Linked DNA regions of Homo sapiens. The protein of the gene in region 2 interacts with the protein of the main gene of each other region in a pairwise test. Each region holds a gene or a part of one and is shown on either strand. Other genes may lie near its edges. The genes, in order: ZNF202, SEPHS1, ZNF474 and XAF1.

Evidence for each region.
Region 1: the proteins of SEPHS1 (region 2) and ZNF202 interact in binary tests that used the Homo sapiens proteins (3 or more experiments, as listed by UniProt).
Region 3: the proteins of SEPHS1 (region 2) and ZNF474 interact in binary tests that used the Homo sapiens proteins (3 or more experiments, as listed by UniProt).
Region 4: the proteins of SEPHS1 (region 2) and XAF1 interact in binary tests that used the Homo sapiens proteins (3 or more experiments, as listed by UniProt).

What each region holds. Positions count from the first base shown.
Region 1 is NC_000011.10:123,738,390-123,746,572, reverse strand, and holds the start of ZNF202 (zinc finger protein 202), read left to right. Parts: upstream 1-4,912; 5' UTR 4,913-5,024; intron 5,025-5,112; exon of another isoform or gene 5,113-6,036; 5' UTR 6,037-6,156; exon of another isoform or gene 6,157-6,380; 5' UTR 6,381-6,456; intron 6,457-7,029; exon of another isoform or gene 7,030-7,139; intron 7,140-8,183. UniProt on the Homo sapiens protein: Transcriptional repressor that binds to elements found predominantly in genes that participate in lipid metabolism.
Region 2 is NC_000010.11:13,345,294-13,353,319, forward strand, and holds the start of SEPHS1 (selenide, water dikinase 1), read right to left. Parts: upstream 3,001-8,026; 5' UTR 2,707-3,000; intron 2,407-2,706; exon of another isoform or gene 1,984-2,406; intron 1-1,983. UniProt on the Homo sapiens protein: Synthesizes selenophosphate from selenide and ATP.
Region 3 is NC_000005.10:122,146,546-122,153,545, reverse strand, and holds part of ZNF474 (zinc finger protein 474), read right to left. Parts: intron 4,223-7,000; exon of another isoform or gene 2,943-4,222; intron 1,768-2,942; 5' UTR 1,556-1,767; coding exon 461-1,555; 3' UTR 1-460.
Region 4 is NC_000017.11:6,765,876-6,773,261, reverse strand, and holds part of XAF1 (XIAP-associated factor 1), read right to left. Parts: intron 5,911-7,386; exon of another isoform or gene 5,809-5,910; intron 2,620-5,808; coding exon 2,278-2,619; coding exon of another isoform or gene 2,221-2,277; exon of another isoform or gene 913-2,220; intron 150-912; coding exon 93-149; 3' UTR 1-92. UniProt on the Homo sapiens protein: Seems to function as a negative regulator of members of the IAP (inhibitor of apoptosis protein) family. Inhibits anti-caspase activity of BIRC4. Induces cleavage and inactivation of BIRC4 independent of caspase activation.

The DNA.
Region 1 (8,183 bases), on a different chromosome or scaffold from region 2:
CTTCAAGTATTCTTTTTTACTCACCTCAGTAAAAGGAAAACAAAATCTTGGGACCCCAAACTCACTATGCCAAAGGGAAAAGCTATGCTTGGGAGCTAAATCACGCAAAAACTGCCTTCCTTTTTTTTTTGTTTCTAAACACATACTTTTTGTTTCTAAACACATGTGTTTCTGAAATTCCTTTTGTTTCTAGGCATATTTACTTTACTTCACATTTACTTTACCTCATAGAAAATGCAGATCTATGCATAATTGACTTTGTCCCCACTACTTTCTTTTCAGATGTAAAATGTGGATTGCTGAGCACTGGTCAGAGCTTCACAAGAATGGGACTTCTTGCTAGGTGCCTACCCTCCCCTTTTTCTTCTTTCCTCCTTCCTCTCCTGCCTGCTCTTTCTGCTTTAAATATTGAAGTCCTCTTTGGAAAAAGCACAGGCCACAGATCCTACTGCAACTTGTGTCTACTTTTCCACGGTGCATCCTCAACCTTGGCAAAATAAACCTCTAAATCAATTGAGGTCTGTCTCAGACACTTTTTGGTTTATACCCCATCTCCCAACCTCACCCCCAGGCTCATCCTGCCCAGGCATTCCACAGACTCAGTTCAAATGTCACTATTCAAGAAAGCTTTCCCTAACTACCTCTCTAACAGCACCACCACCAGGATTAGGACCTCCAGTAACAAGTTCTTGTAGCACTCTGTATTTCTCTGGAGAACTTACAATAATTATAATTAATTTAATTAATCATAATTAAATAACCACAGTTAGTGAATTGCGTAAGTTATTTAAACTGTTTTCTTCTTCCCCAACTCCTTCATATCATACACACACACACCAGTTGAAAGTTAGATCGAGAACAGATATTACGTCTTTCTTATTCTCCATTCTGTTCCATATACCTACCACAGTGTCTTGTAAGAGCAGTCACTCAAAAAATCATTGACAAATGAAGGACCAGCTAACTGCGCTGACAGAATTCTGATCACATCACATATGGAATATATCTTTTGTATGTAAATATATCCTCTATTATGTAAATATCTCATACTCCATGTTTTCCAAGTAGAAATTGATTACCACTGATATTAGATTAGAATCCCCAATTTATATCATTCACAAAAATAAATTCCAAATCTAACCATAAAAAGGAAAAGCAAAAAGTAGTAGAAGAACATACAGGAGAAGCCTTTATGACTTTGGTGCAGAAAAGATATTCTTAAATAAAACACCTAATTTGAAGCGGGGGAAAGAGTGTATCAGATTTGAAACTTTAATACTACAAAGTTAGACAATAATCTAGAAAGTTAAGGAAAACATTAATTTAATATTAATATTTAAAAATATTCAATGAGATTTATAGAGAAAAACATCTTATACACAGCAGGCTTTCATGAACTTAGTCAAGACACATAAAATTAATATATCTCTTGCAATATATACGTAAAATCATTAGGATCTAGGATACATAAAGAACATCTAACAACCAATTTAAAAAAACAAAAAGTCCAATATAAAAATAAAACTCACAGGAAAACTACAAATTACCAACAAATGTATGAAAGAAAGTTCAGTCTCACCATTAACGATGGGAAGGCAAAGTAAAACAATTAGATATTATTTTTGCCCATTAAACTGGCTGAGATTTACAATTCCGGCAACATGAGGTAAGGGCATGGATACAGGGAAAAAATCTTGTATACTGTTGTTAAGGGTGTAAACAGGTGCATTCATTTGGGAGGAAAACTTGGCAGTATTCATTAAAAGTGTGCAACCTTTGACCCAGCAATACTCTTTCTCAGTATCCGTCTCAGAGTACCATTGCATGTACGCACAAAGAGGGTGATCATTATAGCATTGTTTGTAATCCCAACAATTATAAAAACTTATGTTTTCAACAGGCAAATTGCTATTCAGACTATGGAATGTTATGCAGAAAGCAGAAGGAATAAGGGAGATTTTTATTTACCGCTATCAACAGATCTCCAAGGCCCACTGCTAAGAGAAAACAAATGGAAGAATTCAACATGAACACACAGGTATACACACAAGTACACAGAAAATAATACTATGTACTTTCTGTGGATACATATGTACACAGCACATGAAAATAAAAATATCTGGAAGATAAATACATTAGGGTCATAAGAACAGCTAACTTCTGGAGAGAGAGGAGGAAGCCAGGGTTGGTAAAAATGTCATTAGCGGCCAGGCATGGTGGCTCATGCCTGTAATCCCAGCACTTGTGGGAGGCTGAGGCTGGTGGATCGGGAGGTCAAGAGATTGAGACCATCCTAGCCAACATGGTGAAACCCCATCTCTACTAAAAATACAAAAATTAGCTGGGCATGGTGGTGCATGCCTGTAGTCTCAGCTACTCGGGAGGCTGAGGCAGGAGAATCGCTTTAACCCGGGAGGTCGAGGTTGCAGTGAGCCGGGATGGTGCCACTGCACTCCAGCCTGGTGGCAGAGTGAGACTCCGTCCCAAAAAAAAAAAAAAAGTCATTAGCTTTATCCATTGACAAAATCTCTTTTCTTCGCCAAACTTGTCAGGCTTCTGAAACTTCTCCTAGGGCTATCGGCGTACTTCCTTGTAAAATCTACTGTTAGCAAAGAACTCTAAGTCCTTTGGCAGGAACGCCCCCATCCTTGATATCTGACCATCCTTAATACCTGGTCAGTGTCCTCATCCTCCATCACGCCCCAGGTGATGTCTGATCAACCTGGCCTGTCTTCAGCAAGAATCCTATTAGGTTGACTTAGCCAGAATCCGCCTTAAGCCTGATGTTTCCCCTTAGTAATTTTCAATCCATCGACGTCCCAAACTCCAAAAAAAGTTCCTTGACTATAAATTCCCACTTGCCCATTCTGTATTCAGAGTTCAGCCCAATCTCTCATCCCTACAGCAAGACTTCATTGCAGTGGTTTCTTTACCTTTCCTGGTCCTGAATAAGGTCTCCCTTACCATGCTCTAACAAGTATCACTGAATAATTTTTCCTTTAACACTGTAATGCATTAAATGTTTAGAAGAAGATGTTTATGTATTATTTATGCACTTAATACCAATATTTTAAAATATTCAATGAGATTTACAGAGAAAAATATTTGGTACACAGTAGGCTTTCATGAAATGTATATTTCTCTTTGTATTGGGTAATTTTATGTGTCAACTTGACTAGCTAAGGGATGCCCAGACAACAGAAAACATTATTAGTCGGTGTGTCTGTGAGGGTGTTTCTGGCCAATATGGTGAAACCCCCTCTCTACTAAAAATACACACACACAAAAAAAAAATAGCTGGGCATGGTGGCACATGCCTGTAATCCCAGCTATTCGGGAGGCTGAGGCAGGAGAATTGCTTGAACCCAGGAGGCAGACATTGCAGTAAGCCGAGATCGCTGGGCGACAGAGCAAGACTCTGTCCAAAAAAAAAAAAAAAAAAAAAAAAGAGAGAGAGATTAGCATTTGAATCAGTAGACTGAGTAAAGAAAATCACTCTCACCACTATGCGTAGGCACCATCCAATCCATTGAGGGCCCAAATAGTATAAAAAGGCAGAGGAAAAGTAAATTCACCTCTCTCTTCTTGAGCTGGGACATCATCTCCTCCTGCTCTCTGGCCTTCAGACACCAGCACCTCAATCCCTTTCCAGTTCTCAGGCCTTCAGCTTTAGACTGAATTATACCACCAACCTCCTTATTTCTCCAGCTTGCAGTAAGCAGATGGTGGGACTTCTCAACGTCCATAATTATGTAAGCCAACTCCTTATAATAAATCTCCTTTTATATGTTTATACATACCCCGTGTGAAAGGAAAGTGATTTGGGGCCCCCAAAATCACTAAAGGGAAAATTCATGCTGGGAACTGCTTAGGGCAAACCTGCCTCCCCTTCTATTCAAAGTCACCTCTCTGCTCACTGAGATAAATGCATATCTGATTGCCTCCTTCCGGAGAGGCTAATCAGCAACTCAATGCAACCATTTGTGTCTTATCTACCTATGACCTGGAAGCCCCCTCCCCGCTTTGAGTTGTCCTGCCTTCTGGGTTCACACCTATTAGTTCTGTTTCGCTAATACACTGCCACTCCACCAAAAGTAACTAATCCTTTGGTTCAAACCCAGTAAACAGATCCCAGCAATGTGTCCCATGAAAAGGAAGTGGCACATGGCACGTGGAGAGTGGTGACTTACAGGGTAAAAGGGACAGAGAGCAAAGGAAAATGTCAAGTATGGGCAGAAAGGTCACCGAACGGACAAAAATGAACAAATGAGATCAGGGAAGACAGCCTGAAAGTAAAGAAATACGAAGCAACACTCAAAGGAAAAGAAAGAACAGTGATACCATAACTATTTTCTTTCTGAGCTTCTGATGTTCCATTCAGTTCATGTGCAATGTATCATTTAGTCCTCAGAGTAACGGTATTATTATGCCCGTTTTATATGATGCACAATAGGGTTCAAAGATGGAGAGATTCGGCCGAGGCCCTGCTGCTGATGGTGACTGCAAGAGCCAGTATTCAAACCTAACGCTGCCCTTTTCTACCATGTTGCAGCGGACAATGCAAAGAAAAAAAAATCAAGAAAAACACGTAGAGGTATCCAAATGAAAACAAACACACAAAAGATCAAAAACAGAAAAGAAAAAAGAAAAGAAAAAGAAAACCCTTGCAGAAGGTATGCCTGTAAATGAAAGGCCCAAGATGTTAATTTATTCGCTGCAGAGTGGAGTTAGGGGTCGCGGACGGCAGCTGTGGGGTCCGAGGCTTCTTCGCACTGGGTCCTTGGGGAGCACTGAGCCGCAACCCGCGGAGGGCGCATAGAGAGGATCAAACCTCCCACAGCCTAGAAAGGCTCCTACTCGGCGAGAAGGCGGGGCGAGCGATCGCTTCCGGTTCCGGGCGCAAAGGCCCCACGTGTTCCGACCCGCTAGGCCCCGCGCGGCTCGGATCCGGCGGCGCTGTTTCGGTCGGGAGTGGGTGGGAGAGAAGCCGGGGCAGGGGAGGAGCCGCCGGAGCTGTCGGAGCCGTGAGTCCTGAGTGGGCTGGGCTGGGCCGGGCCGGGCTGGACCGGGCCGGACCAGATCGGGCAGAGCCGGGCAGGGCGGGGAGGAGGGGGAGGGACCGGAGACCCCGCCCCCCAGAGTCTGGGGAAATCGCCGTGTCCTGGGGAAGGGGTGGCGGCGGTGTACTGAGGGTGCCGAGACGTTGTGGTCTCTGTGTTTCCTGGTGGCCGGAGCCAGTATCTCCGGGGACACGGATGGCGCTCCCGGCTTCCTTTCCTTTCCAGCCACCGCCCTCCGCCCCCTCCTGGGGCCTGCAGAAATGTAGTTAGTCCGTACCTCGTACCTCCTAACGCTTCCGCGCCAACTGTCCCCCCGGAACCGAGGGAGGAGTGGTCTAGGCCCCTTTATTTTCCGCAGCTTTTTCTTACCCCTCCTCTCAGATTGCTTAAGATCATCTCCGCGGGCTCCTTGCCCCGGCTAGCCCCATCTCCTTACACCACCAAGCCCCCCTCAGCCCCCCAGCACACACCCAGATACACTCACCCGTGATCTTGTCACCTGTGATGATAGTAGTCCTTGGCGTCCATTTGGCCAGAGGCTTTTCAGCTGCCACTGTGACAGACCCTGAGGTCCCCTCAAGCCAGTAGCTGCTGTCTCCACTTGCAACTTTCCTCTCCTCCCACTCCTAACAGCCAGTTTTGGCACCTCTTCTCAGCACCTGCGTTACTTTTAGCAGGAGTATACCTACTTCTTGAGTGTCTTGATTAAAAATTTGTTTTTGTGCCATGGATAGGCTGTGTTCCTTCAGAAAGGTGTCAGTCTAATTTTTGTTTTTCTGAACAATGAATGTTCTCATCTTCTAGGCGCTTTGATAACCCTGTCTGCCTTGGAATCTGTACTGACCTCCCCAGAGGGAGACTCTTAGACCCAGCCTTTCTTGAACAACCTTGGTCCTGGGGAGCAGCGCTAGATCCCAGGCTCTCAATTAGAGGCTGGGCTTAGAACTGTTGCTTTTTCTCTATCCACGCTCTGCAGGTGACACCCAGGGCAGCTACACTCAGAAGCCACAAGGAATGCTAGTGGAGCCCCTCATCCCTCCCAGCTTCTCTTCCAAGCTGCCCCGTGGGGCTTGATCCAGGAAGCTACTTCAGAAAGGTTGTGGGATAGCCTTGGGAGGAGGTTTGTTGGTGGGAAGCGTGTGAACGCGGAGCAGTCTGGGATAACTTTCTGCTGTTACTATCTAGCATAAGAGGGTGGGCAGGGTTGGAGAGAGGACAGGAATTTTTCCTCCTAGGACCAAACGCCTGGGATTCATAATCTTTCACCCTTTCTCCTCCAGCTATACCCTTTTTGTACTCTGTGTATATACTATATTGCAGTAGACAATCATTCCAAGGGTACAACAAGGTTTACCACAATGTGAGGGACTCAGCCATTGCAAATTGTACAGATGAGGTAAGTTACAGGTTTACATTTTTTTTTCCCAGTAAATTTGGCACAGATTTAAAATGTGAAACAGTTCTATACCCCTTGTTTTTGCTGTTCTCTCACCAGCAAACCCTTTAGTTTGGCCAGCAATGGCTTTCTGCATGAACTTCAGATTTACTTCATTTGCTAGGTGGTGGTTCTCAAACTTACTATAAGCACCTGAAGGGCTAGTTAAACGCATATTGCTGGGGCCCACCCCTAGAGTTTCTGGTAATAGGTCTGTGCTGGGGCTTGAGAATTTGTACTTCTAACAAGGCTCAGGTACTGATGCTGCAGATCTGGGTTCTTCACTTTGAGAACAACTACCTTTTGGCCAAATGTGATATATGTATTGCAGTAGGTTGAGGTTCAGAATACCTTTGTTTGAGTACTTCTGTGTTGGAAACTAGTAATCTGATCTTTTATAGATAATCACTTAGGTCTGAATATTTTGTTCGCAAAATTAAGAAAGCGTACTTAAAACAACTGAATGCTATATGCCAAATTTGAGGTGAAATATTGATAAGTTCTTCCCCTTGATTTTCTTAATTCTCTTGATAGGGGCTTCACGTTTTGATCAAAATATTACACCTGTATTCTGGGCTTTTGCTGTGAATTCCTAGTATTGCTAAAATTCTGCAATTTCTTAACTACCTGTTAAGTTCCTCAAGGTCAGAGCTTCTGCTTTTTTTATCTTTCTTTGCCCAGCACCTTGAATAGTGTGGGACACGTAATTGACGCTCAGTAGATATTTGTGTATTGAACTCCATCCCTTGTCCTCCTCCCCTCTTGATGTTTTTCTCTACTGGCCTTATGCTACACAGTAAAGCAGGGCATGATTATGCCACTTGATTACCCCCAAGAGATTGGAATAAATGCTTATGCCAAATTCCTACAGCTATCCCTGTGAATGGTTTATTACCCAGGAGCCCTGACACTGGCTGATTTCTGAATTTTCAGTGCTTCTGTAATATATACTAGTTGGGGGAGGAGAAATAGAAAGCTTAAACTCAATGTGCGTTTATTGAATACCTTTTCTACTAAGGGCTCCACAAAGTGGTAGGCACTGGGAATATAAAAATGAATAAGGAGACCCTTGCTCTCGAGGGCAGGGCCCACAGTGGGGAGACAGACGTTAAGCCATGCCCACGACAAGAATGACTTCTGAGATTCCTTCTCTGGATCATGATTTAGTCTTCAGTGGAAACCTGGTACTCCTCAGATTCCTCTGGTTCAACAGGCGGGGATCCCATCCCTTATCATCTCCTCAAATGCTAAAGGACCCTTGAGCAAAGCCAGGAGGAAGTCATCTAGACGTGAAACAGGGAGTATCCACACAGGCTGTGTTAATGACAAAGCTAAAAACATAGTAAATGACTTTTGAATTTACTGCTGTTATGAATTATCTATAGCAACACCTCCGGTCAGCTCTGTTATATATGTTATTGCGTTATTTCCCATTAAATGATGGTTCCTCTGACTATCTGATTGGCATTGACTATGTTTGTTGTAGAGATTGCATACATCTAGTTTAACTCTGGCTGTCAAATGAGAGCAGTTACTCTTATCAGGATGGGTGTCAGGTTTGATGTCCCCTCCTTTTCCTGCTTCAGGTTAATTTGTCATGTTCTGTTTTAAACTGAGACATATAGCTTGACCTCCTTTATTTAGGCCATTAACTGCTCTGGGGTAGTTTTCCTGAAGGTTAAAAAGCC
Region 2 (8,026 bases):
CGTGCCACCTTGAACAGCAAATCCCAAAGGTTCTTCTAGGACTCAGCATTAGAACAGCACCTCTGGGCACTTCATGTGTCAACCTGGAAGCACTGTGGTTCAGAAAGCGGCGGTCCTCGCTAAGGTGACTTTTCCGCAAAATCTTTTGATATCTTTTGCTTTATCACACAGAAGAATGAAACGCCCGATACAAACTTGTCAGAAAAGGGCATTAATGTAAATGCATTGGACAAAATTCTTCACGATGCTAAATCCTTATTTTAGAAAAACACGTTTTCCCTCTGAGCCCAAAGAATATACAACACAAGGATGGGCGTGGTGGCTCATGCCTACAATCTCGGCACTTTGGGAGGCCAACGCGGGTGGATCACCTGAAGTCAGGACACAAGCCTGGCCAACATGGCGAAACCCCGTCTCTACTAAAAATACAAAAATTAGCTGGGCGTGGTGGTGCGCACCTGTAATCCCAGCTACTTGGGAGGCTGAGGCAAGAGAATCGCTTGAACCTGGGAGGCGGAGGTTGCAGTGAGCCGAGATCGAGCCACTGCACTCCAGCCTGGGCGAGAGTGAGACTCCGTCTCAAATAAAAAATAAAAAAATACACAATGCAATCCAAAACTAATAGGAGTCCTCTCTAAAGGGCACAACTTAAAAACTACAGTGGCAGTTTAACACAGTAAGGTCTGTGTTCTTCAGGCGAAAGCCTGGAAAGTTCTCTGATGTTTTCACGCAGTGCTATTTCCTAGAAAGCAAAACATCCAGCCCAACAAACTAGTACACACATCATTGACAAAATATGCTACTCCTCATTAACATTTCATTGCAGAACCGAAACAATAAATTAAGCCATACTAAATCAGCAGCATTTCGGCCCTGTGTACCACCGTTAGGTTTCTGGAACAAGCACTCCTACGTTTTTTAGCCTTTGGGGCTAAAGGAAAAAACAACATGTGTTCCTCGAGTTTACAAACCTCCAGACTGATACTTTATTGGGACTAGAATTACAAACACCCCAAGTTTTAAGGTCGGTTTCCCCTATAAAATTTATGATTAAGAACATAATTCCCATTTATAGAGTTTTCCATCCCTTGGGACGCACATCGCTCATATAAATCTCACGAAGCCCGAGTTTGGGCAGTAATCCAAACCGTCTTCACAAAAACACGGTTTGGGATGAGCAATGATTTCGGTGGGAAACGTAACAACTGAGCAGGAGTCAGCCTTCGAACACGATTCCAAGAAGTCTCCCTGCCCAAAAAGAGCAGGCGCTGGCCGCAAGTGACAAGAGACGAGAATTTTGAAGCCATCTTAGAGTTATGGGAAAGTTTGAATACCACTTTGACTTGGAAGGCGTTTTCAACAAAAACAACAAAGTCCTTTCCTCAAAAAACACCTCGCATTTAACACAGCCTCACCCCTACCAGGAAAAAAAAAAGAAAAAGAAAAAATCCAACTCACGAGGCATCCAGTTATTTTCCTACCTCCTATCTATTCCTCTCCTGGCTCCCAAAAAGGTGGGGAGGGGAATTGTGTGGCTATCACTTCCTTTTAAATTACTATCTTCTCAAGAGTTTTAAGGGTGGAAAAAAGTTTAAAACACCTTGTATCAGGAAGGCGCTCAGATTTAAAATTCCAAATGGTACTAAGGACACAAATCAGCCTCACATCCTAATGAAAAAAGTACTAGATTCTTACATTTTTGGAGGGCATGGGAAGGGGGAGGGGGTTCTGGGGGAAATGTGCAGTGATTAGGGAACCAGGGGGATCCATTTGCATTAATAAGGGACGGTGCCCGGCGACCCCGCAGCCACATGTTTACGCCTTTAAAACAATGGCATGAATATTTAAAGCAACGTTTAGCCCTTTCCTTCCCGGGCACATTTCCATGGTTTGGTTTTTTTTTTTCTTCCAACGAGCGTGGGGAGCCGGGGAGCCGGTCAGCGGGGTGGGCCCGGCGCGCTGCCCCGCCAACCCCGGACCTACCTCCCCGCCGGCCCCGCACAATGGGGCGCGCTCTCCAGGACGCCCGCGTCGGAGGCGGCCGGGGAGGGGAGCAAGGAACCCGGGGACACCTTCGGGCTCAGGCTCAGGCTCAGGCCCTCGCCGCCGCCTCGGAAGGCCCAGCAGGCCCGGGCTGCGGGCCGGCGGCGGGGCGGAGGCGGCAGCTCGGGGCCCCGGCCGGGCCATCCCTGTTCGGGCCGGCGGGAGGCGGCGGGAGCCGGCGGGCACCGCGCGTGCGGCCCAGGAGCCGGGGAGGACGCCGGGACGCACCCGCCCCGGGTCGACAGGGCCCGCGCGGAGAAAAGGGGAGGCGGGGAGGCCCCGGAGGCACCCCGCGACCCCAGGCCGGCCGCTCCCGCCGCGCGCACGGGCCGCCGCCGCCGCCGCGCAAAAATGTCGGCGGGCGAAAAAATTAACCCCTGCGTGGCCGCCGCCGCCCTCCCCTCCGCTCCTCCCCGCCCTCCCTCCCTCCTTCCCCGGCCCCGCGCGGCGGCGGCGGCGGCGCGGGCGGCGCTTCTTTTTTAAAGCGGCCCCACCAAGCCCGGCGCTGCCCCTCTCCAGGCAGGGCTGGCGGGGCCGGCGGCGCGCGGCTCCCCGGCGGTCCCGGGCGGCCCGGAGGGGGATTTGCAACGGCCGCCGCGGGCCTGCGGACCCAGATTCCCCTTTAAGCCTGCGCCTCCCCCCCGCGCCGGGCCCGCCGCTTACCGGCTCGCTTTGCGCCCTCCGCCTCCTCCCGAAAACGGGCCGCGGGCCGCTCCCACAATGCACCGGGCGCGGCCGGGCTCCCTTAAGCGTCGCCTGAATAAAAATGCCGCGCCCGGCGGCGGCGGCGGCGGCGGGGGCCCGGGCCCGCGCCTGGGCGCCGCGGGGGCTCGCCTGCCTCGGCGCGGCCCTGCGGGAGCCGGGCCGCCGCGCTCCCGCCGGCTGGGCGCGCGGGGGTCCTTTAAGGCCGGCCACCTCCCTTTAAGAGGCGGCCCTGGCTGCTGGGTGGCGGCGTGCGGCCCGGGAAGGGGGCGGGGGCGCCGTGCAGCCCCGAGCGCGGCAATGATTGGTCTCGGGGGAGGGGTGGGGGGTTGCAAACCCGAGGAGCGGTGGCATCCGTTGCATGATGCAAAAAAGGATTGATTTCAAAAGTTGCGAGTTGCATTGGCAGCCGCCCTTGGCGCCCGGGCCACCTTTTTCCCGGGCCCCGCTGCAAGGGCCGGGAACGTTTCCGCCACCTGGCCGGGCTCGACCGCGCGGCGCTCTGCGGGGCGCTGTCCCCGCTCCCCGAGTGCGCAGCGGAGCGTCCTGGAAGACAATGACCATGGGAACAATTTGCACAGGAGGCTAGGAGCCCAGGAAAAGCCGCCTGGGCGCCAGGCAGAGGTTTTTTGAAAACACAAACGGCGCGTTAGATGCTTGGGGACTCCCAGCATCTGTCCTTCCTATTGTTTAGCTCGGCTCCGGAGTTCACGGGAGCCTCGTGAAATGTGGAGACGTCCTGCAAAGTTTCTTGAACACTTCATGTGCGTGGTAGGAAGTCGAGGAAAAAGGTTTACGGTTCCCCGCTGGTTGCATTGTTTGTCCTGCACATGTTCGAGCGAACATGGCAGCCGCAACCCTGGATGTGTTCGAATTGACATCGAGGGGGGAGCTTCACGTCGTGAAATAACTTTTTTCTGGGCTTTCGAGATTCTAAAGCATTGCTGATGAAAATAAACCAAATACTTTCAGATATCGTTTAGGGCTTCTCTCTAAAACAGCAGTGTGCAGGAATGCCGATCGAACTTTTCTAGGCAGTAGGTCAGCATTTTCCAAATGTTATTTGGGAGCAGAAATGTTTTGGGTCACTGGACCGTGCTTTACGTGGCACGGCAGGTTGGCACGCTACGCAGATGCCCTTTTCGTTAACATTTCCGCTTGCCAGTTGCTCCGGGTTTTAATCCTGGGCTGGATGCAGAAGTGATGCCACCTCGAAGACAGGCTGCTCCTGTCTTTGTGTACTTTCTTCATACCCTGTAGTAAGTTTGCAAAGAACGTGTTAGTCTGCATTCTTTTATTTTATATTTATTTATTTATTTATTTTGAGACGGAGTCCCACTCTGTCGCCAGGCTGGAGTGCAGTGGCGCGATCTCGGCTCACTGCAACCTCCGCCTCCTGGGTTCAGGTGATTCTCCTGCCTCAGCCTCCCCAGTAGCTGGGATTACAGGCGCCTGCCACTGGAGGATGGCTTCTCCCAGAGGGGAAGACAGGGTCACGGTTCTCATTAAGAGGGTATTGTACTAGTCAAGCCCGGAGATGTACTTGAACTGAAAGCAAGGGGAATGCAGCCCAGGGAAGGGATTTGGTGTGATTTAGCACGTAGGAAGGAGAGGAAGAAGGATAAGATGACCCCCAGGTTTCCAGTTTGCGGGGGTGGGGGGTGGGGGAGGGAATGAGGAGCGATGCTAATAATTTATCTAAGAACTGCTGAAAGGCAAACAAGTTTCGGGGTGAGTTCAGCTTTGGAAATGTTAAATCTGAGGTCTGCCGGATGGTGTGGGGGTGGGGCTCAGAGTTGCAAATCTCAGGTCTGCCGGATATTCCAGACCAAAGTTAATAGGGAAACAGGTCCGGAATTTGGTGTGGGGATGGGGCTCAGAGATGCAAATCTGGGTGCCATCAGCATGTAAATGGTGTTCGAAGCCTCCGTAAGAGGTGAGATTAACCCCGAAGGGAGAGCTCAGGAAAAAAGTGAAAGAGACCTTGGACAGAGCTCTGCAGAACTTGGAAATCAAGTGGCTGGGCGGGACAGAGGCCGATCCCCGCTGCGTCGGTGGGAGGCCACCATCCTCAGAACCGACTCTTCCTCCCCGCCTCCACCCACCACGAGCTCACCGGGAAGCAGTTCTCTGCCGCAGAGGCCGTAAGCCACAGATGCCTTACTTCATCCAGGGCCACACTACAGCCTTGGCCCAGATCATCTGGCAGAGTCATGCATCCTTTTCTTTGCCGGTGATGAGAGCTTCTTCCTTGGGTACTGCTTTGAGCTAGTCCTACGCTCCCCCGCAACTCCCGGGCTCACCAGAACCCCATTCTAGGGAGCCATCCCCGCTGGATTCTCAGGCTCTGCTGGTTCCGTCCAAGAGATGGTTCTCCTGGGTTGCATTGTCTGGTTGGGGCTTATTAAAAATACCAGTTTACCGCTGAGCAGGGTAGCTCAGGGTGCCTGTAACCCCAGGGCTTTGGGAGGCCAAGACAGGAGGATCACTTGAGGCCAGGAGGTTGAGACCAGCCTGGGCAACATAATGAAACCGCGTCTCTACAGAAAATTTAAGAAGTAGTCAGGTGTGATGGCGCATGCCTATAGTCCTAACTACCTCAGAGGCTGAGGTAAATCATTTGAGCCCAGTAGTTCAAGGCTACATTGAGCTGTAATCGTGCCACTACACTCTAGCCTGAGTAACATAGCAAGACCCTGTCTCAAACAAAACAGAACAAAACAAAAAGAACTAATTTACCAGCTTCACTCACTTGAAAGATTACAGCTAGCAGATACAATGGGTTGAATTATGTCCACCACAAAAGGTGTGTTGAAATCCTCACTGCCCCCCATACCTGTGAATGTGGCCTTACTTGGAAATAAAATATTTGCAGATTTAATCAAGGTAAGATGAAGTCATACTCAATTGTGATATGCCCTAAATCCTATGGCTCATATTCTTAGAAAAAAAGGAATATTTGGGCTGGGCGTGGTGGCTCATGCCTGTAATCTCAGCACTTTGGGAGGCCAAGGTGGGCAGATCACTTGAGGCCAGGAGTTTGAGACCAGCCTGGCCAACATGGCGAACCCCATCTCTACTAAACGTACAAAAATTAGCTGGGCGTGGTGGCATATGCCTGTAATCCCAGCTTCTCGGGAAGCTGAGGCAGAAGAATCGCTTGAACCCAGGAGGCAGAGGTTGCAGTGAGCTGGGATCATGCCACTGCACTCCAGCCTGGGTGACAGAGCAAGATGTCTCAAAAAAAAGAAAAAAGAAAAAGAAAGAAAGAAAAGAAAAGGAAGATTTGGAGACAGCGGCACAGAGGAGACACAGGGAAGATGGCCATGCATGTGAAGACCGAGACAGAGGTTGGAGCAATGCAGCTACAAGCTACAGCGGAGGTTGCCGTCAGCATCAGAAGCTGGGAGAGGCAAGGAGGAATTCTTCCCTAGAGCTTTCAGAGGGAGCGTAGCCCTGCCGACACCTTGGCTTCCCGCTAGCAGCCTCCGGGATTTAAACTACCCAGCTTGCGGTCCTTTGTTATGGCAGCCATGGGAAAAGACTCCAGCAGGTCGGAGGTGTATGTGGTGGGGAAGGGATGTGAAGAATCCCCATTTTGCCAGGCTCCCTGGGTGATTCTGATGCTTTTGAAGAACACTGACCTAAGAATTCCACTTCCTCTGAAACCCAGAGGGACGAGAGGCTGCCTGTTCTATACCCCACATCCTGCTCACCCCAAAACAGAAAAGCAGCTCCAGTGACATCACCTTCCTGTCACCTGCCCTTCTCATTCGGGGCTCATGCCATCCAACACTGCCACCATCTGCTGCCAGAAGTGTCACTCCCCTGCATGGTTTGAATCATGCCCATTCAAAAGTGGCCCCTGCTCTGTCATCCCAGGGGATGGAGAGGGTCCATTCTCAGGAATAGCACCTGCTAGATGATGGATGTGCAAATCTGATGACCTTGACCTTAACTCCACTTTAGACACCCATTGTCTTGGCCGTGCTGTGAACCTTCTCGGCCCTGGAAATCTTTCATTTTTTATTCGTTTAGAGATGAGCTCTCGTTATGTTGCCCAAGGTGGTCTCAAACTTCTGGGCTCAAGCAATCCTCCCACCTCAGCCTCCTGAGTAGCTGGGACTACTACCATGCTTAGCTAACCCTGGAAATCTTAAACACCAACACCCTCTCCCCCGTCCCTGAGTCCTCTCCCTTCTTTACATAGGACACCCACACTCTAACTTCATGGGGGCCACCAGTCTCCTGAAGTGGATCCGTTTCATTCTGTTCAGCTTGGACCGTCTGAGGGTAGTTCTGCAGCCTCATCTCACCTCAACCCATTTCATTGACCATGTTCACCCCCACATGTCCAAACTTAAGCCCCTCTACCTGCCTTCTTTGTCCTTCCACTGGGCTGGAGGAAACTCAGAACTTAGAGATCCTGCCATGATGGGCATGTCAGCCCCCAGTGCCAGCCGGGCTTTTCTGACACCTCAGAAATCATTGAGTATGTTATTCCTGATGTTCATTATTCTCCCCAAGGGCTGGTTCACACTTTGCTGCCTTCAAGAGCAGATGCACCTTACAGAAAAGAATTCATGTCCTCAGGGGAAACCCTGTAATTCCCCCACCCTTCCCTGGCCCCACTAGACTCCTCTGACCTCCAGGGTCAGTGTCTCAGAGACAGGACTGCCCTCTGCCGGTCCCAGGCTGGTCCCTGCCTGTACCCTGACTTCCACCCCTCCAACAATAGCTAACCTTTGTTGAGGATTCACTACATACCCCACTGCACAGTGTTTTAAAGCACTGCTTTTAGAATTCTCCCCACAGTCCCCTGCGGTAGGTTTTCCTTTCATGGGGATGGGAACCAGGGTTCCGACTAATTAAGTAATTTATCCAAGGTCACTGTCTTAGTTTGGGCTCCCCCAAAGTAGACCTGGAGACAAGGATTAGGGAGAAGGGAGTTAGTTAATTTGGGAGGTGATCCTAGGAAACATAAGTCATGAAGCAGACAGGAGGAAACAGAAAGGAGAAAGCCGGAAGGAATGTTAGAGTGGCCTACCAACCGTGGGCACCTGGGACTCTGCCCTGTTGAGGCTGCTCTGAGAAATGGTACGGACCCCCTAGGGCAGGCAGATGAATGACGAACTCCAGTAGGTCTATGTCCCAAGCCCCAGAGCCTGTGACTATGTCATGTTACAAGGCAAAGAGGAATTTCAGTTGCAGGAATTGAATGTACTGATCAGAGCCAAGTGTTGTAGTTCATGCCTCTAGTCTCAGCTACTCGGGAGGCTGA
Region 3 (7,000 bases), on a different chromosome or scaffold from region 2:
TAATTGTTGCTAAAGTCATTGGGGGTTTTTGACACAGATTCTATTTTAGTAAGATAAACTCAGCATAACCCAGCATTGCCAAAAATGAATTCCTAAGGTAGATGACTAAAATAAACCGACAATAAATATTGGCTGTTGGAATGGGAATTATATCTCTGTAATGTAGACACAGCATTAATGACTCATTTTCAAATTACTGTCTCTCCCAGGGATTATTTGTATCAGGGATCAGGGAAGAAAGAAGTCCATCTCTTCTTCTTTTAGACAGCAGAATTGAAGAGGAATATGAACCCATCAGGCAAGGATGTTCTTATATCTATTCAGCCAAGAGAGGTATAGGCCCTGGAGTTCAACAGGGAGTTAACTTGAACAGGCTGCTTTGAGGCTGATACAAGGCATTGATAGAAAAAATACTAGGGGCTGAGGTGGCTGATTCTGGGGATAGTTTTCTCTTGTTCCCCTACAGGCAGAGGGCACCACCAGGTTCACCTAATGCGTCTTGTGTGGCATGAATTACCTTATCAGTTACACTGGGTGCTGCCCTGTTCCTTTGCTGCTTGGAATTAGTGTACTCTTTTAGGCCTCCTTTACTCCCTAAATTCAAATTCTGATATTTTGGCCCATAAGGATGAGTTTTACAACTTCTCTGGTGTACCAGGAGGCGGTCTGAGGTAAAGATTCGGCTACAATGTGGGCAGAACACAAGCTGAGCTTGATTTGGTCCCGCTTGGCTGGACTGTGCATTCGGAAGGGGCTGAGGCTTCTGTGGGAGTGGCTGGTGGAGCTCCACAGGGAGCCGGTCATTTTCCATTTTCCACTTTTCCAGGCATTTGGGCTCATGAATAGGAAGGGACAGGGTGCCAAATTCCTTACCACATATGTAGCAGATAACAGTCCTTGGTCGGGCTGGGGTTCCACTACAAGCTTTCTTGAGGCCAGTAAGATGATCAGAACTGTTTGAGTGTGGTGCTCTGGGACCCTCACCCTTTGGCTTGCAGCTTCTGTGATGAACAAGAAGATGATCTGGCAAGAATGTGCGGCCACAGGATTCACAGGGCAGCAGCTGAGCCTGGGCACTCTGAAATGCAGCCTCGTTAGTTGCCTGAAGACTGTAGGACCCACTGCTGCTGAGAGACTGTGGTTTGGAGGGTTCTGGCCTCCTCAAATGCTTGGGCAACTTGCTGTTTTCAATATGCCACTTCTGCAAGCACTGGGGTTCATGAATGGCAATTGACTGGGACCCAAATTCTCGGCCACAGATATAGCATACCCGGAATCCAGGCCTGCGGGCCGGGATCACAGGGGGGCTAAGCTGGCTTTCCGATATAATTCTTCTACTTGACAGTTTTGATAGTATCACAGTCCCAGGTCTCTTTTTCTGAGTGTCTGTCTTTATATTTTCACCAGGATTAACACTCTCTGTTTCTGGGGAAAGGCTAGAATAGGAGTCACTAGAGAGAAGCCCAGCTTGGTTGATAAGGAAAGTGGGTTCTTTAGAATGGTGAAAAGTTTGTTGTAACTTATTGGAAATTCTTTTCTTCTTTCCTCTTTCCATTAACAAAGATGTCTTTCTGTAGTGCTTGCTCTGATTTCAGGCCAGACTCACTTTGGGCTTCTGCTTAGAGTGAAGGTTAGTGAGGTTAGTTGTCCTGGGGTTCACACCGTTGCCAGTACCTTAGCCTCACAGACCGTGACTCAGAGCTTCATTGCAGGACGGCAGTCTGGAATGTTGGAAAGTCCTCATTAAAGCTGAGATGTCTCCAAGATCTGTGGAGGCGGGTGGGAGACATAAGAAGTTATTATGTAAACACACACACACACACACACACACACACACACATTTAGGTTGTTTTGTGTGTGTGTGTGTGCTTTTTTTTTGCTTGTTTTAAATATTGACCTTGTATACTTTTTGACTAGCACAGTAACCAGCATATGGGATTTGGTCAATAAACTGACATAAACCTGAGGAAATCTTCCATCATCAATTGCACTATCACTGTATTGAAAATCGTGTTCTGCCCAAAAAGTTAACTTGACAATTACAGCACATCATAGATACAGAAGACGCAAAGCAATAGAGGCTGAGACCAGGGTGGTGAGACCATAGAAGAGAAAACTGCAAACTGTGAATATTAGATTAATGAAATCAGCAGGTCATACGAAAAGACCCCCTGGGCCCCACAGAAACTTCCACTACGTCAGAGATCCTTAACTTGTTAGTGACATGGATTCCTTTGACAATTCTGTGAAGCCTATGCACTTCTCAGAATAGTATTTTTATAAGTAAAAATAAAAATTGTTGCTATCACAGGTGAAATCAGTTTTACTGAAATAATTTGTCAACTGTTTCTAGTTGTGATATACATTTTAATTGAGGTAAAGTTGTGTCACAGACTTCTTGAGTGTCCATGGACCTGAAATTAAGAACTCTTGCAGAAGAAGTAATTCAAGAATGAATCTTATGAGGATTATCAGGATAGCCCTCAGAGGGACATAAACTTCTTGTGACACATCATGTATTCACTTTTGTTTATTATGGGAATAGGGTATTAATAAAGTGGAGCTATAATTCTCCAGCAAAGAGTACAGCCTAGGCCGGCACCCATCCTGGTGGGATATCTGCAGATCTTTCATGGAAAGATGATACACAGATGCTGCTTGAGGCTCTTTTTTTATTAAAAAGGTATCATACCTACTTTCTTGTTTTATATATGTATGACTTCCAAATATTTTTAAATATAAAACAAAGGCCCTGGATTCCCCAAGGATCCCCACCAGAAGAAGTGGCAGCTTAGATATCCATTTATGGGAAGAATCTTAAATTTGTATATTGGGAAAAGTTATGAGTAAATTTTACCGTGGGTTTATAATCTGGCTCCCCAAAAAGATTATTTCAGAAGCCTCAGGACCTTTTTCATTTCCTTTATCGTTTCATTTATCAGGGTGATAAACTCTAAAGCATCCATTCTTAACCACAGAAGAGCAGCCCCTGGTATGAAGCTGGATCCTCTACATCACGGCAAACACTTCAGTTTGGACAGTGCAAGGCCAGCAGTCCTGGTAATATGGAAACCCTGGGCACTGGATTTGATAAAGAACAAGAAGAGCTGTGATATCTGTGCCCAGCTCCTGTACTTTGGTGCCAACAAAGGTCTGAATCCTTGCCTTTAAGAGTATCAAATCAGGTCTGGCACAGAGAAAGAAGTTATTCTTCATTTTGACAGATTCTAAGACAGTAATGTTAACAGATGTGGGAAAAGTATGTGTTGGCCCCAGAGTGGCCAGCATAGAAAATAAAACAGAGAAATTTATCACTCGATCAGTACCATCTAAAAGAGAAAGTAGATCTATGGAACATAGGAATAGGGTAAAATTATTTCATTAGGTTTTAAATCCAGCCCGTGGGTTATTTCCACAAACCATTCTGCTTTATTGGCTCTGTTCACCGAGGAATTTTAGTTTATCATTTTCCTTGATACTAGGAAATTGCAGACACTAATATGACTTAAGAAGACAGATTAGAAAAATCAATGCAATCAAATAAGCCTCCTTCCCCTAAATTGTCTCTGCCTCTCTTTCTCTCTCTCTGTCTCTTTCTCCCTCCCTCTCTCTCTCTCTCTCTCTCACGCGCGCACACACACACACACACACACACACACAGAGTCAATTCTGTTTCCAGCAGATTAGAATACTGAGAAATCCCCATGACTTTCCCCAGCAACCCCTCCATCTCCCTTTTGATAAGGCAAGAGAGGTAATATTTACTGAATGCCAATTATATGCCAGATAGGGCACAGATTTTTTGTAAACATAATTTTAGTTAATTCTCAAATGATTATGAAGCAGGTATTATTATTTCAACTTTATAAGTAAAGAAACTGACTCAGAAAAGACAAGTAATTTGCCCAAGACTGTCAGTTTCTAAATGACAGAACTGTGAATCAATTCCAGCTCTCTTTGGCTCCAATACGTGGCTCTTTCCATTATTCATTCTGCCTAAATTCCTCCAGCAGAGCTTCTTCCCTTTAGTTTTTATCCCTGTTTTAATGTATTATCCATATGCCTCAGGGGAAGGTAACTAAGCTCTCACCAGCTGTTATGCTTCCTTTTAGAAGAAAGAAGAGGCAAGAAGGAGGAGTGCAGACAAGGCACAGAGGAGAAGCCTCTGAGAGGGACAAAGCAGAAGAGAGAGACTGGGGCTATGGAACACAATGTTTTCAATGTTAAGTGACAGGGGACTTTTTTTCTTCAACTTTTATTATAGGTTCGGGGTACATGTGCAGGTTTGGTATATGGGCATATTGTGTAATGCTGAGGTTTGGAGTACACATGAATCTGTCTCCCAGGTAGTAAGCATAGTACCTAATAGGTAGTTTTTCAGCCCTTCCTCCGCTTGCATTCACTATCTGTTGTTCTCATCTTTATGCCCACGTGTACTTGACGTTTAGCTCCCACTTATAAGTGAGAACGTGTGGTATTTGGTTTTCTGTTTCTGCATTAAGAATCACTTTTTCCAGGCCGGGCGCGGTGGTTCATGCCTGTAATCCCAGCACTTTGGGAGGCCGAGGTGGGCGGATCACCTGAGGTCTGGAGTTTGAGACCAGCCTGGCCAGCATGGTGAATCCCCGTCTCTACTAGAAATACAAAAATTAGTTGGGTATGGTGGCTGTAATCCCAGCTACTCAGGAGGCTGAGACAGGAGAATCGCTTGAATCCGGGAGGCAGAGTTTGCAGAGAGCCAAGATCGCGCCATTGCACTCCAGCCTAGCTGACAAGAGTGAAACTCCATCTCAAAAGAAAAAAAAAAGAAAAAAAAGAATCACTTTTGCCATATACAGTTGTTTTCTAGATGTAGTTTTTCCTGAGTGATGTGCAGTACAGATTCTTTTCTTAATTTCACCAATATCTTCAGAAAAATCTACATAACCAGCAGAGGTAGGGACCAGTTGGGGGAATGGGGCAGACCAACGATGAATGATGTGTTTTGTCTGTCTTGATCATGGGCACAGGGTAAAAGTGAAGGCTGCCCCAAGAGGCCAGGTAGTGCTCAGTTTGAAGCCATGTCACCATTTGATTAGGGATAGATCTTACCGCACACAAACATTTGTGCACTGCAAATATTTTCTCTGCAGCAAACACGATGAAACATCACAAAACGTCCATTTGAATCTTCAACTTTTCTTTTTCTACCATCCCTTTCCTTCTCCAATGTTCTCCTGAAATTTTTCCCTTATTGTGACTAAAGGTATCAAAATATGAAAGATGAGGTAGCTGGAAGCCAGTGAAATTTTTGGGAACGGAGGTGTCTTATGGAGAAATGCGTAATGTTTCTGCCAGTGACTGTGCAAAGGCAACATGCCATGGCACAGCAGTGTTGGTTGCTCTCCCTTTATAAGTTAGCTCTAAAAGCAAAAGTGCTGGAAAATACTAAATGCATATACTTAAATCACATAAGAAATTGGCCTGTCACCCAAAACGTCATAAAGCAATGTTGCTAGTTTATAAAGAGAACCACTTTGCAAAGCCAGACAGTTTTACCTCAAGCATCTCTGGAGAAATGTTCACTCAGTTGGCCTGAATTATTCGTTTTGACCATATCTGCACATAGGACATTTACAGAATGTCCTGGAAGGCATCACCTTTTATCAACATGATGCCATTTTTCCATTCTCTTCAGGGTTCATGGGAAGGGAGAGACAAACACACAAAGAAGAATGTAATAACCGTGGAAATCCAAAAACCATCTTGGCATTAGAAGGTGTCTCTCTAAAAGAGAGGGAACAGAACACAATGAAAAGTGTGATCATATCTTTTAAAAAATAATCTAGTCCTTTGAGGATGAGTTCATGTCCTTTGCAGGGACATGGATAAAGCTGGAAACCATCATTCTGAGCAGACTGTCACAAGGACAGAAAGCCGAACACCTCATGTTCACACTCATAAGTGGGAACTGAACAATGAGAACACTTGGACACAGCACGGGGAACATCACACATGGGGGCCTGTTGTGGGGTGGGGGGATGGGGGAGGGATAGCATTAGGAGAAATACCTAATGTAAGTGATGATTTAATGGGTGGAGCAAACCAACATGGCACATGTATACCTATGTATCGAAACTGCACGTTGTGCACATTTACCCTAGAACTTAAAGTATATAAAAAAATCTAGCCCTTTGAAACAAAAGAAATATAGTTGATACATGATATGATCCCTTCTCTATTAGTATTGAATTCAAATTCTTTAAATGAACAAAAACATAAACAAGAAAGATGGAGTTGGGGCTGATGGTGGCTCTGATCAAGATTCTAAAATAGAGGAGGTTCATCTTCAATGTTGTTCACCCACCCCATTCAGCAGCCTCCACTCTCCAGCCTAGTATTCTTGTATGCTCACCAGTCCGTCTTACCTATGAAATCTTGCTTTCAAAAAGGAACTGATGGACTCATTTACACCAAGGCTTATAATTGATGAGATAATGTCCCTTCTAATGTCCGGCAGAGACAGTTAGTTCCTTACCAATAGCCATTCCACTCAACTCCCTCAATTAATAGAGCCCCAACTTTCAGCTGGGCACATCTACAAGCTCCTTTGTAGTTAGTGAAAATATTGTGTGGAACTTGTAAGAACAATTCTTGAAAAGGAAGAAGAGAACAATTGCTTCTCTTCCTTTCCTTCTTACTGATGCTTCGAAGATGGATGTGATGACTGGCGCTTTAGCAGCCAGTTGAGAACAGATTTCATTTATGTAACACTTGATATGACAGAGCAGAGGCCTGGATGGACTTGGGTCCCTGGTAATGCTGGAACCATCATAGAAGCCCTGGAGTGCCTTTCTTGGACTTTATTTACATAAGAAAAGTAAATTTTTATTTTTATTTTAGCCATTTTTAAGAGTCTGTTATTCACATGGAAACCTAATACTAATTGAGAGATATCTGTATTTTAATACTGGTGATTAGCACAATTCATCCTAATAATGTTATTTCAAATTTCAGATTT
Region 4 (7,386 bases), on a different chromosome or scaffold from region 2:
CACCTTTCACAAGACCACCACAGCAAGTAGGCAGGAATGCCAGTGTTAAAAGTGAAATCTTTTGAATTTGTAGTACCTTTCCTTTTCCAAATCTAGCTGAAATTTCTCACTTGTTTTCCTTTTGATGAAGCTAACCACCGGCATTTCTCCTAAGAAATGGATATAAAAAAAGTTTGATATGGTTAAAGTAAGAAGTGCTAGCTCCTAGAATATCTCTGGATATTGCTGTCCCTTGTTACAGAGCATGAGCCCTGCCCAAAGACTGGAGTGTAATGGCATAGAAAAGGTCAGGAGCCCACTGAGCCAGAAGTATAGGAGGCTTGCGACAAAGTTTAACAGGGGCCTGTTGCTATCACTGGGTGGAGGGACAGATGGGAGAACACTCACACCATGGAATCTTAGGCAGCCATTAATAAAAATAAGCCACACTGTTTTGTTTGTAGGGATTTCCTTGGGTATTGCTGAATTTACATTAGGATGTAAAGAAATGTTGCTGGGCGTGGTGGCTCATGCCCTATAATTCCAGCACTTTGGGAGTCTGAAGCGGGTGGATCACCTGAGGTCAGGATTTCAAGACCAGCATGGACAACATGGTGAAACCCCATCTGTACTAAAATGCAAAAATTAGCTGGGTGTGGTGGCGGGTGCCTGTACTCCCAGCTACTCAGGAGGCTGAGGCAGGAGAATCGCTTGAACCCGGGAGGCAGAGATCGCAGTGAGCCGAGATCCCACCACTGCATTCCAGCCTGGGTGACAGAGCGAGACTCTGTCTCAAAAAAAAAAAAAAAAAAAAAAAGATGGCAGCTTTACTGGTTCAAAAAAAAAAAAGTGAAAAAATGTATATAACAGGACTCCAAATGTGTATGTTTGTATGGTGGTTATATAAGAAATTGCTAAATAAAATACAGGGTGTCCTGGTTAAATTTTAATTTTAGCAAAACAATCATTGCATGGAATATACCTACACTAAAAACAATTCTTTGTTTCTCTGAAATTCAAATTTGACTGAATGTCCTGTATTTTTATTTGCTAAATCTGGCGACTCTGTTATATAAGGATGGAGAAAACTGTGAAAGGAAATATACCAAATTGTGGGAGGCAAGGAAAAATGGCACTAGTAACACCCCCAGCAAATATGAAATGAACCCATTTTTGTAAAATTATATGCTTATGTGCATACATAGATGCACAAGGAAGTTAGAAAAAAAGGTTTTGGCATACTAAGTCTTTTGTAAGAAGCATGCATCATATACTAAGTGAAAAAGGCATGTGGCAGAGTAAAAAGTATAGTAAGATAATATGTGTGGAAAAAGAAACAAGTAAAACCCAGTATATGCTTGTTTAGGCTTGTATATGCAAAGGTAGAGCTTTGAAAAGATGCCCATAAGACTGTCCAAAGTGGTATCTCAGGGTATGGGGTTGGGGAATTAGGGTTAGCTTTGCTTTTATACTTCTTTATATGATATTATATCAACTAGCTCCAACAAAATCTAGTACTTATGTATTTTGAAAAAAAATAAATTTTTTAAGTAAGGCATTTAATCTGGAGCTTAAGAGCATAAACTTTGGAGCTATATACATGTGGACTCAGGCTGGATCCTGCCACCTTCTAATTGTATACTCCTTGGAAAGCTACTTCACCTTATCTGTAAAATGGAGATAAAATGCATGCCTATTGTTTATGATGAAGATTATAAAGAGCTCTGTATTGTAACTGGCACACAATGGTTAACAACCTCTAATGCCAGTTATTATTATTACTAGAAAATAACCTAGGACATAAAAATCATGATATTCAGGGAGATGCCTACAAACCCTGATCTTCTTGAAGCAAACCTTGATCTGCTGGAGGTAAGCCACCACCAACTGGCTTAGGATCTTGACCAAGACATCTCATCTCTGGGCCTCAGTGCCATATCTACACCATGAGAGAGATAGACTGGGTATCCTCTGATTCATTCATTTACTCAACAGTTTTGAAGCAGTTGCTCCAAATCAATCCCTGGCCTAGAAGCTGGAGACACAGAGAAGAGGGACCTGGCTCTACCTTCAAAGACCTGGCTTGAGTCAAAGGTGACTCAGTCTCTCGGAGGTGATGCAAATAAACCAGGTGGTAAGTGCTACGAGATAGTGCATTTGGGCACCCAGAGAAGTGGGAGTCAGAGAAAACGGCCTTTTCAGCCACAACATTTGTGAACATCTTTCAGGTCTTGGATTTTTTTAAGACACTGTGCGGATGGTTCCCAGAAAGGTAAGCAGAGAACAGAGGCTGAGTACCTGATGTTGATTTAGGATCGGCAGGGGAAGCAGGATGCCACACTGAGAACATCTCCTCAGAATGTCATAGGCTGCTTTATCTCCTCTAGGGGAGCTGGTCCTGGGCTTGGGCTCTGACATCAAAAGTGGATCCAAGGTTTTGTTTTTGCTTCTTGGTGCTTTCTTTGATGAACTTTCAGAATGAAGAGGAAATCTGTTTATACTTCTTGTCTTTGGACGAACATCTTTCTCCATCGTGGAAGTTTGATTTTCAGCAGCTTGACTTGGAAGAGATGAAGGAAGAATTTCTGGATTTCCAACAGGAAAGTGTTTCTTAAACTCTGAGTCTGGACAACATTTACCCTGCAATTGTGAATAATATATCAAATTTTAAAATGACTTCAGCTTTAATGGTCAGAAAATACAGTAGACTAGATAACACAAGAAATTCCCACTGTAAACACTTTTATATGGTGTATAAAATGTGACAGACATTCAATTTAATAGCTGGCTTTGCAGGAAAGAAAGAAAATTTTGCATTCCAGGAATGAAGGTCTGACTGGTTGCTATGGTTTGAATGTGTCTCCTCCAAAATTCAGGTGCTGCCAATGTGATGGTATTAAGAGGTGGGGCCTTCGGGGGTGATTAGATCATGAAAGGTCCTCCCTTTTTAATGAGATTAGGGTCCTTATAAAAGAGGATTCATGAAGTATTTGGCTACAGCCTTCTACTCTTTTGCTTTCTACCATGCTAGGAGGCAGCAAGAAGGCCCTCACCAGACACCAAATGGTGGTGCCTTGATCTTGAACTTCCCAGTCTTCAGAACTGTTCGAAATAAATTTGTGTTCTTTATTATTACTCTGTCTGTGGCATCCTGTTATAGCAGCACAAATGGACTGGTTAAGCACAGGAGTTGACACTGCTTATGGGAGATGTAGGGTCAACTTTGTAACTAGGGGCTTGGATGACAGGAAAGTCCCATCCACACAGGTGGGGATTTGGAAGTAAGACTCTATTGATCCTGCATAAAGCTGGAAACTTTAAAGGATAAATTATGGTGGGTAAGAGGAAAAGTATCAGCTAATGAGAAAAGGAAAGTGGCAAGGAAGCTTTTCTTTCTTGGGTCGGTATTTGAGTGTGGAGATGAAAACTTATGCCCCTGAAAACTCAAAATCACAGGTCCATGCCATTCCTGTGTGTGGGATTAGGATTTACTTTGGCCTCATGGTCTGGGAATCCCTGAGCAGAAGAATTAACATAAACATTGAGATGTCTGGCAGAAGCAATCACAAAATTCCTCTGGAGGGACAACAGCCTCAAAATAGGTCATAGAGGATCCTCATAGGTAGAGTCCCACCAGATAGAAACTCACAATCCAAAATTACAAACACACAAGGAAGCAATCCACCTTGAGTAAGAGTCACAGACACAAAAGTAGTCAGATTAGCCTCCAAGAAGTTCAGGTAATGCAACTATAGGATAGAGACTGTAAAATAAATTAATTAAAAATGATTAAATCTGGGAAAAGAATAACATCTCATGAAAAACAGAACAGGTAAATTTGAAATTTTCTAATTTGTAATTAACAAATAATAACTTTATATATTTATGGGGTACAATGTGATATTTTAATATATATATACATTGTGGGATGATTAAATCAAGTTAATTAACATATCAATCACTTCACATACCTATCTTTTTTTTGTAGTGAGAACAAAAATAGGCAAATTTGAAAGAAAGATAAATTGAACTTCTAGACATGAAAAATGCAGGTATTGAACCTAAATGGATGGGCTAAAAACAGAAAATTAGATTTGGCCAAGAAAGAATGAATGAACTTGGAGATAATTTCAGGAAATTACCCAGAATATAAGAGATAGAAATAGAGAAAATATGAAAGGTTAAGAGACATAAGGCGATTAAAAGAGAGAAATGAAAAAAAAGGAGAGTCATGAAAAAAAAGAGAGTCATGAAGCTAGAATGAGAATGCTTAATATACATGTGTTATGTTCCAGAAGGAGAGTTGAGAGAATGTGGGAGAGTTGGGGAATGTTGGGAATTCAAAGAGATAATAGATGAGAATTTTCAGGCCTGATTAGTGACATAAATCTTTATATTAAGGAAAGAGAAATCCTGAGCAGGAGAAAAGCAAACACATTTGAGTACATTGTTCTGAACAGAATGAATAAAAATAAAACTACTCTTAAACACGTTACAGGTAAAAGGCAAAGAGGATCTTGAAATCAACCAAATATAAAGATTACGTACAAAGGAATGGCAATTAGGCTGGAAGAAAATACATCAACAGCAATAACAGAAGTGGGATGGCAGTGGAATAATCTTCAAAATGATAAGAGAAAATAGCTGTTAATCTAGATTTTGATATCCAGCTAAACTATCATTCATGGATGCAAAAAACAAAAAGCTTATTTTCAGGCAACTAAAGATTTACTACTCAAGGTTCTTGGTGAAGAAGCTACTGAGATGTATTTCAGGAAGAGAGAAATCATACCCAGAAGGAAAGCTTAGGATCCAAGGAAGAATGTGAGTAAAGAGAAGGGTAAACTTGTGAGTATATCCAGCCGGGCACAGTAGCTCATGCCTGTAATCCTAGCACTTTGGGAGGCCGAGGTGGGCAGATTATGTGAGGTCAGGAGTTCAAGACCAGCTTGGCCAACATGGAAAAGCCCATCTCTACTAAAAATACAAAAATTAGCCAGACGTGGTGGCACACACCTGTAGTACCAGCTACTTGAGAGGCTGAGGCAGGAGAACTGCTTGAACCCAGGAGGCGAAGGCTGCAGTGAGCCAAGATCGTGCCACTGCACTCAAGCCCAGGCAACAGAGTGAGACTTTTGTCTCAAAAAAAAAAAGAAAGAAAGAAAGAAAAAAAGCAAAAACAAAAACATGTGAGTATATCTAAACAGGCATGAGTTACATAAATAACAACAATAATCAGTAAAGAGGGGTAGTATGAAAGCAAAATGAAACAAAATTCTGGCAGCATTTTCATGTAAGATAGTTACAGTGTTAACATGTTCTCAAATCTATATACTATTTGTAAGGAAAGTAGAGATAATGACTAACTTTAGACTTTATTAAGTCAAGTATTTATATTAAAATGTTAAGGGTAACTATTGAAATGATAGAAATAAATGTAAAATTGACGAATCAGTAGGAAAGAAGAAAGAGAATAAAGAAATCTTGCTCAATCCAATAGAATACAAGGGAGAAGCAAGCAGCAGCAGCAGCAGCAGCAGCAGCAGTAGTAATGAACAAGAGTGGTAAATGCAAGGCCCCAAAACGATGGGGGAAAATTATTGTTAACATCATTGAGAGTGATAAAGGCATTGTGATTAAGAAAATGACTGTATTTTTGAGATATTAAAGAATGATGGTGAAATAACAGGATATCTTGGATTTGCTTTAACATACTTTAGAAAAAAGAAAACAAACAAAGTATAGTTCAAGCCTGGAAAACTTTTGATTTCCACGTGTTAACAGCTATTTTCTCTTAGCACTTTGAAGATTATTCCACTGCATACCCACTTCTATTATTGCTGTCGATATATTTGCTTTCAGCCTAACTGCCATTCCTTTGCTTGTAATCTTCTTCGGCTGATTTCAAAGAAATCAACCTTTGCCTTTTACCTGTAATGTATCTAAGAGTAGATTTATTTTTATTCACCTTGTTTAGAACAACAACTGTTGTATCTGGGGAGTAAATACATGAATGTTTATTGTATTAACTTTCTACTGTCATATTTATTTGAAAGTTTTTGTAATCAATTTTATTTCTTTTATTTTTAGTGGACAAGTAATAATGATACATACTTATAGAATACAGAATGATTTTCTAATACATGTATACAGTGTGTAGTGGCCAAATCAGAATTGTAATAAGATTTTTAATAAACAGATTAAGATGGTCAATAGATTCTATAGCCACCCAAGCTTTCATTTTCAGACATATAAGGCCTAAAAAATTTGCCTCTCATGCTTTCTTTCTCAAGAAACTATTTGGGGATATGTTCTATCAAACAAGGAGTAACCTAAGAAAGAGAAAGATGAGACCTGAGATTTGGGAATCAGAACTCCAACCGTGGAGAGAGTGGAAGAAATTCCAGACCAACAGCTAATCATCAAGCCTGGGGCATAACATGCTCCCAAAATGAAATGGACAGACTATCTGATGTGTGTAGTTGTACTCAGGGGAATTTTCAGATCTGGTAGAGAATTTTAGGGATGATTTAGTGATAGGTACCTAGAAAGTGAAGCAAATGAAAAACCGAAGCAATTATTAAGTCCAGGTAAAACAAAAAGTTGTAGGAGAAAGAACACATAATCACAATTCATGTGGAAAACCATTTATAATGTTTACATGGTTATACTAATGTAATACTGAATATTTATTTAACCAGAATGAGTGAAATCAATACATTGGAAGGATGAAATGAAGAACTTTGGAGGTGTGTGTGTGGGATGGGTGGTATAAAAAAGTGAAATCTATATTCCTAAATCCTTATGAGTCAATAAGTAATATCTAAAACTGGAAAAAATATAAGAAGGTGCTTTAGACATATGAAGGTGATTACCAGAAGAAACAGCTAAAAGCAAAAGTAGAGTATTTGTGTCTGGGGAGTAGTTAGCATGAAGGGGACCAGTGGGGCTTATAGTTTTTCTGAGGTCGTGGGAGACAATTAACAAGGGCCATAATAAGTAAGTAAATTAGATAATATGTTAGAAGTTGGCAAATGCTATGGAAAAAATAATAGAAGAAGGTAAGGGGTTGGTAAATATGTGATGGAGAGGGAGTTGCAATTTTAAATAGGTTGTTGTGGTACATCTCCTTGAGAAGGTGCCATCTGGGCAAAGACTTGAGAGAAGTGAGAGAGTTAGCTCCTGGAGTAGGGTGGGGAAGGTGAGGAGGTAGCTTCCAGCCAGAGGCAGTAGCCAGTGAAAAGGCCCTAAGGCATGGTATGCTCAAGAAACAATCAGGAGGCCAGTGAGCTGAACAGGAGTAGTACATGAGATCAAAGAGGTGATGAGATAAGAAGGGAGGCAAAGATGACATAGATCTCTAAAGCCACTGTAGTTTTGAGTTTGCATAAAATGGGGCAAGAATCA